Linked DNA regions of Homo sapiens. The protein of the gene in region 1 purifies or fractionates together with the protein of each later gene. This does not show direct contact. Each region holds a gene or a part of one and is shown on either strand. Other genes may lie near its edges.

Region 1 (4,136 bases):
TGTCTTTCCTCTCTCTCTCTCTGTCTTTCTTTCCTCTCTTTCTTTCTTTTTTCCTACATGGCAAGATCTCCTCATGGCAGAAATAATCTGCCTTGACTTCTGTTTCCACGCTGCTTCTGCCAGGACCATGCGCTCGGCGTGTTTTTCTTTCCGCTATAATTATCCAGGCCCATCCCAGCTCTGGTCCCCTCAGCTGTTCCCTGGCAGTCCCTTCTGCTGGTGAAAACACATATGGCGCCGGCCTGACCAGGGTGTAAGTGTGTGAATATCAGGAAGATGACTGAACGTCTTTGGGACTCCGTTTCCTCATTGTAAAATGGAGGTTAATACCAGCCTTCTTCTACTCCCCAAACGCACGTGTTTGTCCCGGCCAGAGGGCCCAATTGTTGGCTGTTCACGCGTCAGTTACCCCCACAGGACGGGTCAGCCAATTAAAGGCGAACCAGGCCCGGTCCATCTCCTGACGCCTTTTCTCATCCCAGGGCTGGACAGGCAGCTGGCCTGGGCCCGGCTCTGCCTTGTCACGTGCGGGGGCCGGCCCGTTTGCTTGTCTGTGTGTAGGAGCGTGAGGTCACGCTGGGTGCTCCCGCCCCGCCGGGGCCTTTAGTGTCCTGGTCCCTAAACGCCAGGCCGCTCCACCGGGGGAGAAGGCGCGAACCCCAGCCGAGCCCAACGGCTGTTGTCGGTTGCCGGGCCACCTGTTGCTGCAGTTCTGATTGGTTCCTTCCCCCGACAACGCGGCGGCTGTAACCAATCGACAGCGAGGCCGGTCGCGAGGCCCCAGTCCCGCCCTGCAGGAGCCAGCCGCGCGCTCGCTCGCAGGAGGGTGGGTAGTTTGCCCAGCGTAGGGGGGCTGGGCCCATAAAAGAGGAAGTGCACTTAAGACACGGCCCCGCTGGACGCTGTTAGAAACCGTCCTGGCTGGGAAGGCAAGAGGTGTGTGACTGGACAAGACTTGTTTCTGGCGGTCAGTCTTGCCATCCTCACAGAGGTTGGCGGCCCGAGAGAGTGTGAGGCAGAGGCGGGGAGTGGCAAGGGAGTGACCATCTCGGGGAACGAAGGAGTAAACGCGGTGATGGGACGCACGGAAACGGGAGTGGAGAAAGTCATGGAGAGAACCCTAGGCGGGGCGGTCCCCGCGGAAAGGCGGCTGCTCCAGGGTCTCCGCACCCAAGTAGGAGCTGGCAGGCCCGGCCCCGCCCCGCAGGCCCCACCCCGGGCCCCGCCCCCGAGGCTTAAGCCGCGCCGCCGCCTGCGCGGAGCCCCACTGCGAAGCCCAGCTGCGCGCGCCTTGGGATTGACTGTCCACGCTCGCCCGGCTCGTCCGACGCGCCCTCCGCCAGCCGACAGACACAGCCGCACGCACTGCCGTGTTCTCCCTGCGGCTCGGTGAGCCTGGCCCCAGCCCTGCGCCCTTTGCGCCCCCCACGCTTGTTCTGCGTGCGCTGCCCGCTCTTCCATTTACCTTCTCTCCCACCCAAGTTTGTACTCTTTTCTTTCTCTCGGTTTTATTTTTTGTTTTTGTTTGTTTGTTTGAGACAGGCTTTCGCTCTGTCTCCCAGGCTGGAGTGCAGTGGCGCGATCTCGGCTCACTGCAGCCTCCACCTCCCAGGTTCAAGCGATCCGCCTGCCGAGTAGCTGGGATTACAGGCGCCCGCCACCACGCCTGGCTAATTTTTGTGTTTTGTAGAGATGGGGTTTCGCCATGTTGGCCAGGCTGGCCTCGAACTGCTGAGCTCAAGCAATCCGCCCGCCTCGGCCTCACAAAGTCCTAGAATTTTAGGCATGAGCCTCCGGGTCCGGCCTGTGCTAATCCTTTCTGTCCTTGGTTCTTTATTTCTCTTCTCTCTTTTTCTTAGTCCCTTTTGTTCTTTCCCTCTCCCGTTCAGTTGGCTGTCGTTTGAGCCTCCACCTTTTCACTCCCTCCTTTCCACCACGATGCCGAGCCCTGCCTTGGATGGGGACCATCAGCGATGACCACAATGACCTCTCCCTTACCAGGCAGCTCCAGGCAGTGTTCCTGCACCGCCTTTCCCAGGGCTTGGGGGCTTTTTCTAGTGGGCTTTGAGCTGCTCAATCTGGCCTCTGCAGGGCCGGCTCCCAGCCCTTCCAACCTCCTCACAGCCCGACCTGGGACCTAGCCAATTCCCGGAGAGTCTCTGTCCCATCGTGACCCCCTCACAACTCTCCCACTCACCAAAGTCTGATGACTGTGCTAGGGGGTGCTTATATAGAGTACTGAGTGTTACAAAAGCAGAAGTCTGGATGAGAACCAATTTGTGATATTAAGCAGGTGGGGTGGGGGTGGGGAGTGTACCTAGGTTCATTTTCCGCCCTGCTTTTCCCCTTTCCAGTGTGTGCACTTAACCAGTCCCTGGGCCCTGTTCCCCATCCCCCTCCAAGGCATGGATTGGGTGGGCTTGTGTGTCTTGGGGCAGGTGGCCCTTTCTAAACTCTCTGCCTTTGCTCACCCACAGGACACATAGTATGACCATTAGGTGTTTCGTCTCCCACCCATTTTCTATGGAAAACCAAGGGGATCGGGCCATGATAGCCACTGGCAGCTTTGAAGAACGGGACACCTTTAGAGAAGCTTGATCTTGGAGGCCTCACCGTGAGACCTTACAAAGCCGGGTAAGAGTCCAGTCCAAGGAAGAGGTCTCTTGCTGCCTCCTAACCCTGTGGTCTAGGGGCAGGAGTCAGCAGGGCATTAACAAAAATAATTACCATCCCCACCCCCGACAGTGAAGTGGCTCTTTCCAGTTCACAGAGCACTCTCACACCTCCCCGCTCTCATTCTGGCCCTTCAGCTGACTCGGACAAGCCAAGGATCTTGGTCCCCATTTTATAAAGGAGAAAACTGAGGCCCACGTGTAACAGTGATTGGCCCCAAGTCATCCCGGGAGCCAGCAGAAGAGCTAGGACAGGAACCTATTGTTCTAACTTCATATTGATGCTAGCTTTTGACTATCCCTGAAACCGAGATTGGTAATCAGCCCGGCTCTGAAACTGGTTATTTGCTGGGGACTGTAAAATAGGATTAACTATTTCTAGTCCTGCATTTTAATTGCTGTTAGTAGGGCCATCTTACCCACCCTCTGAAGGACCTGACTTGGCAAGCCCAAGGCAACATTCAGAATATGGCAGCTGAACCTCTGTGCACTTGTCTTTGGGCAGCAGCTGGGTCTTATTCTTCTCTGGCCTTCACAACATCCTGCAACCCAGCTCAAGGTCAGGAATGTGACAGACTCATGTCATCATATCTCTGATGCCCAGAGAAGGGATACCATTTGCCTGAGCCTTCTCAGTACTGTTTAATCAGCCTGTGAGAACTTTCCTTGTGAAAGGCCCTGTCTGTGCCTGGGGCTGATAAAACAGCAAGAACGAACTGAGGAGCTGGGCAGCAGTGCAAAGCAAATACTACCAGCTTTGGTGCCTGTAAGTGTGGCTCTTACTCATCTCACATGGAAATAAGGGCAGCCACCTTGCAGGGCTGCTCTGAGGATTGAGCTAATACAGTGCCCTGGGCGTTGGGGTGGGGAAAGTTGTGGAGCACCTCCTGGGGGAAGGGGGTGTCAGAGCAGGGAATCTGGGGAGTCCGAGGGCACCTTCATCAACCCAATCTGTCATTTGAGCACCAGTCTTCACTGAGCCTCGTGGGCAAGCTGGAGGGAAACAGGAATAAGGTCAGGCCCTGTTCTATAGGTCCCAGTGTAGTTGCTATGGTGAGTATCTTCATTTCCCTGCTTGCCCCAGCCACCTGGAGTGAGAAGCCCAAGAGGAAGCTGGGTGAGCTGTTTGTTTCCATGGGTCTCTGTGTTCACAGCTGACTCCCTTCACCAGCCAGCCCTTTCACCTGAGCCCCAGCAACAAAGGCAGTCAGGCGGGGCTCAAAGCAGCTGCTCCAATGAAGTCAAAGAAATAAGCTCAGGGGAAGAAGCAGGTCACCCTCCCCCACTAGGGTGCTGGGCTCACTTCCTCCTGGGGCAGTGGAGGAGGGTGTGGTTCCAACTCAGAACAAAATGGGGCTTTTGGTTTACTTTATCACTCTTCACAGCTCTGACCTGGACCCCTCATCCCTGCCTGTCTTGTGGTGTAAGTGCGGATCCCCCTAAGTTGGAGGAAAGGAAACTGGC
Region 2 (3,667 bases), on another chromosome or scaffold:
TCACTGTCACTGTCCTGGCTAACACTGGATCCCCGGGGCCTGCTTGTCCTGGGCCCTGATGATTGTCCCTGGCCCACCAGTGAGTGTCTAGAGCTGTCGGCCCAAGAGGAAGCTTCATGATGATGCGACCCTGAGTGCCTAGAGCCATCTCCTGATTGTTCCTTGTCATATGTTTTTCTGCTTGCACTTCTGGATCCTGACTGCCCACGGGAGGCATCAGACCTTCCCTGGGATGTGGTGTGGCTGTGATGAGACCCTGAGTGTCCAGACCTATCTACCGATTGCTCTTGGTGGGACCCCTGTCTTCCTCCTCTGCTTGGCCCCGGGTGTCCACGAATGGTGTCCTGACCCTCTTGGGATGCTGAGTGCCTGGAGCTGTCTTGTGCCTGATCATAATGGGATCCTTGTCTTCCTCCAGTGCTGGGCGCAGACTGTCCATGGGTGGACTCAGACTGTTCATGAGTGCTCACCTGGTAGAGGAAAGACCCTGAACGTCCAGAGCTTTCCCCTGACTGGCCACGTGCGGACTCTTTGTGGCTCTGCTGATGGGGCCCAGCTTTTCCCTGTGCTGACACTGACTGTGTGTCTGAGTCTTCTGAATGTCCCTCACTGTCACTGGCCTGACTACCACTGTACCCTCGGTGTCCACTGTCTCTGACTGCAGATGAAGCTTGTCCATGCCCAATGCCTGAGTGTCTGGAGCTGTCTGCTGACTGGAGCTGGTGGTGGGATCCATGTCTTTCTCCTGCACTTGATCTTGCCTGTTCATGGGATGACGCAGCCTGTCCACGAGAGGAAGACTCTGTGTGACGAGTGCCTGATTGTCTGGAGCTGTCTGCAGAGTGCCCGTGACCGGCTCTGTCTTCGTGATGGGACCCAGGGTGTCTGGAGCCATCTCTTGACTGCTCCCAAGCAGATCCAAGATGGTTTCTGGAAGCAGACCCAGACCACCTCTCAGAGTCTTCTGAGTGTCCCTGACTGTCACTGTCCTGGCTAACACTGGATCCCTGGTTCCTGCTTGTCCTGGGCCCTGATGATTGTCCCTGGCCCACCTGCGAGTGTCTAGAGCTGTCGGCCCGAGAGGAAGCTTCATGGTGACGCGACCCTGAGTGCCTGGAGCCGTCTCCTGATTGTTTCTCATTACGTGTTTGTCTGCTGACACTTCTGGATCCTGACTGCCCACGGGAGACATCAGACCTTTCCTGGGACGTGGTGTGGCTGTGATGAGACCCTGAGTGTCCAGAACTATCTACCGATTGCTCATAGTGGGATCCCTGCCTTCCTCCTCTGCTTGACCCTGGGTGTCCACGAATGGTGTCCTGACCCTCTTGGGACGCTGAGTGCCTGGAGCTGTCTCGTGCCTGCTCGTGGCGGGATCTTTGTCTTCCTCCAGTGCTGGGCCCTGTGCGTCCATGGGCGGACTCAGACTGTTCATGAGTGCTCACCTGGTAGAGGAAAGACCCTGAACGTCCAGACCTTTCCCCTGACTGGCCACGTGTGGACTCTTGGTGGCTCTGCTGATGGGGCCCAGCCTGTCCGTGGGCTGACACTGACTGTGTGTCTGACTCTTCTGAGTGTCCCTCGCTGTCACTGGCCTGGCTACCACTGGACCCTCGGTTTCCACTGTCTCCGACTACAGATGAATCTTGTCTGCGCCCAGTGCCTGAGTCTGTGGAGCTGTCTGCTGACTGCTGGTGGCGGGATCCATGTCTTTCTCCTGGACTTGACCTTGCCTGTTCCTGGGATGATGCAGCCTGTCCACCAGAGGAAGTCTCTGCATGACGAGTGCCTGATTGTCTGGAGCTCTCTGCAGAGTGCCCATGACTGGCTCTATCTTCTTGATGGGACCTGGGGTTCCTGGAGCCATGTCTTGACTGCTCCCGAGCAGATCCATAATGGTTTCTGGAAGCCGACTCAGACCGCCTCTCAGAGTCTTCTGAGTGTCCCTCACTGTCCCTGTCCTGACTAACACTGGATCCCTGGCGCCTGCTTGTCTTGGACCCCGCTGATTCTCCCTGGCCCACCTGTGAGTGTCTAGAGCTGCCGGCCCGAGTGGAAGGTTCATGGTGACGTGACCCTGAGTGCCTGGAGCCGTCTCCTGATTGTTCCTCATTTCTTGTTTGCCTGCTTGCACTTCTGGGTCCTGACTGCCCATGGGAGGCATCAGACCTTCCCTGGGGTGTGGTGTGGCTGTGATGGTACCCTGAGTGTCCAGACCTATCTACTGATTGCTCGTGGTAGGATCCCTGCCTTCCTCCTCTGCTTGACCCCGGGTGTCCACGAATGGTGTCCTGACCGTCTTGGGATGCTGAGTGCCTAGAGCTGTTTCGTGCCTGCTCATGGCGGGATCCTTGTCTTCCTCCAGTGCTGGGTGCAGTCTGTCCGTGTGTGGACTCAGACTGTTCATGAGAGCTCACCTGGTAGAGGAAAGACCTTGAACGTCCAGAGCTTTCCCCTGACTGGCCACGTGCGGACTCTTTGTGGCTCTGCTGATGGGGCCCAGCTTGTCCGTGGGCTGACACTGACTGTGTGTCTGAGTCTTCTGAATGTCCCTCACTGTTAGTGACCTGACTACCACTGGACCCTCGGTGTCCACTGTCTCTGACTGCAGATGAAGCTTGTCTGTGCCCAATGCCTGAGTGTCTGGAGCTGTCTGCTGACTGCTGGTGGCGGGATCCATGTCTTTCTCCTGGACTTGATCTTGCCTGTTCATGGGATGACACAGCCTGTCCATGAGAGGAAGACTCTGTGTGATGAGTGCCTGATTGTCTGGAGCTGTCTGCAGAGTGCCCGTGACTGGCTCTGTCTTCTTGATGGAACCCAGGGTGTCTGGAGCCATCTCTTGACTGCTCCCGAGAAGATCCATGATGGTTTCTGGAAGCAGACCCAGACAACCTCTCGGAGTCGTCTGAGTGTCTCTCACTGTCACTGTCCTGGCTAACACTGGATCCCTGGTGCCTGCTTGTCCTGGACCCCGATGATTGTTCCTGTCCCACCTGTGAGTGTCTAGAGCTGTCAGCCCAAGAGGCAGCTTCATGGTGACGTGACCCTGAGTGCCTGGAGCCGTCTCCTGATTGTTTGTCCTTACGAGTTTGTCTGCTTGCACTTCTGGATCCTGACTGCCCATGGGAGGCATCAGACCTTCCCTGGGATGTGGTGTGGCTGTGATGGGACCCTGAGTGTCCAGATCTATCTACCGATTGCTCATGGTGGGATCCCTGCCTTCCTCCTCTCCTTGACCCCGGGTGTGCACGAATGGTGTCCTGACCCTCTTGGGACGCTGAGTGCCTGGAGCTGTCTCGTGCCTGCTCGTGGTGGGATCCTTGTCTTCGTCCAGTGCTGGTCCTGGTCCGCCCATGGGCAGACTCAGACTGTTCATGAGTGCTCACCTGGTAGATGAAAGACCCTGAACGTCCAGACCTTCCCCCTGACCAGTCACGTGCGGACTCTTGGTGGCTCTGCTGATGGGGCCCATCCTGTCCATGGCCTGACACTGACTGTGTGTCTGACTCCTCTGAATGTCCCTCACTATCACTGGCCTGACTACCACTGGACCCCCAGTGTCCACTGTCTCTGACTGCAGATGAAGCTTGTCTGCGCGGAATGCCTGAGTGTCTGGAGCTGTCTGCTGACTGCTGGTGGCGGGATCCGTGTCTTTCTCCTGGAC

What was found.
Region 2: the proteins of UCP2 (region 1) and FLG purify together in Homo sapiens (affinity purification with mass spectrometry; 3 studies listed by BioGRID and IntAct, with this or other methods). This does not show direct contact.

Annotation. Positions count from the first base shown.
Region 1 is NC_000011.10:73,979,974-73,984,109, reverse strand, and holds the start of UCP2 (dicarboxylate carrier SLC25A8), read left to right. Parts: upstream 1-1,266; 5' UTR 1,267-1,389; intron 1,390-2,477; 5' UTR 2,478-2,634; intron 2,635-3,180; exon of another isoform or gene 3,181-3,438; intron 3,439-4,057; exon of another isoform or gene 4,058-4,136. UniProt on the Homo sapiens protein: Antiporter that exports dicarboxylate intermediates of the Krebs cycle in exchange for phosphate plus a proton across the inner membrane of mitochondria, a process driven by mitochondrial motive force with an overall impact on glycolysis, glutaminolysis and glutathione-dependent redox balance.
Region 2 is NC_000001.11:152,308,137-152,311,803, forward strand, and holds part of FLG (filaggrin), read right to left. Parts: coding exon 1-3,667.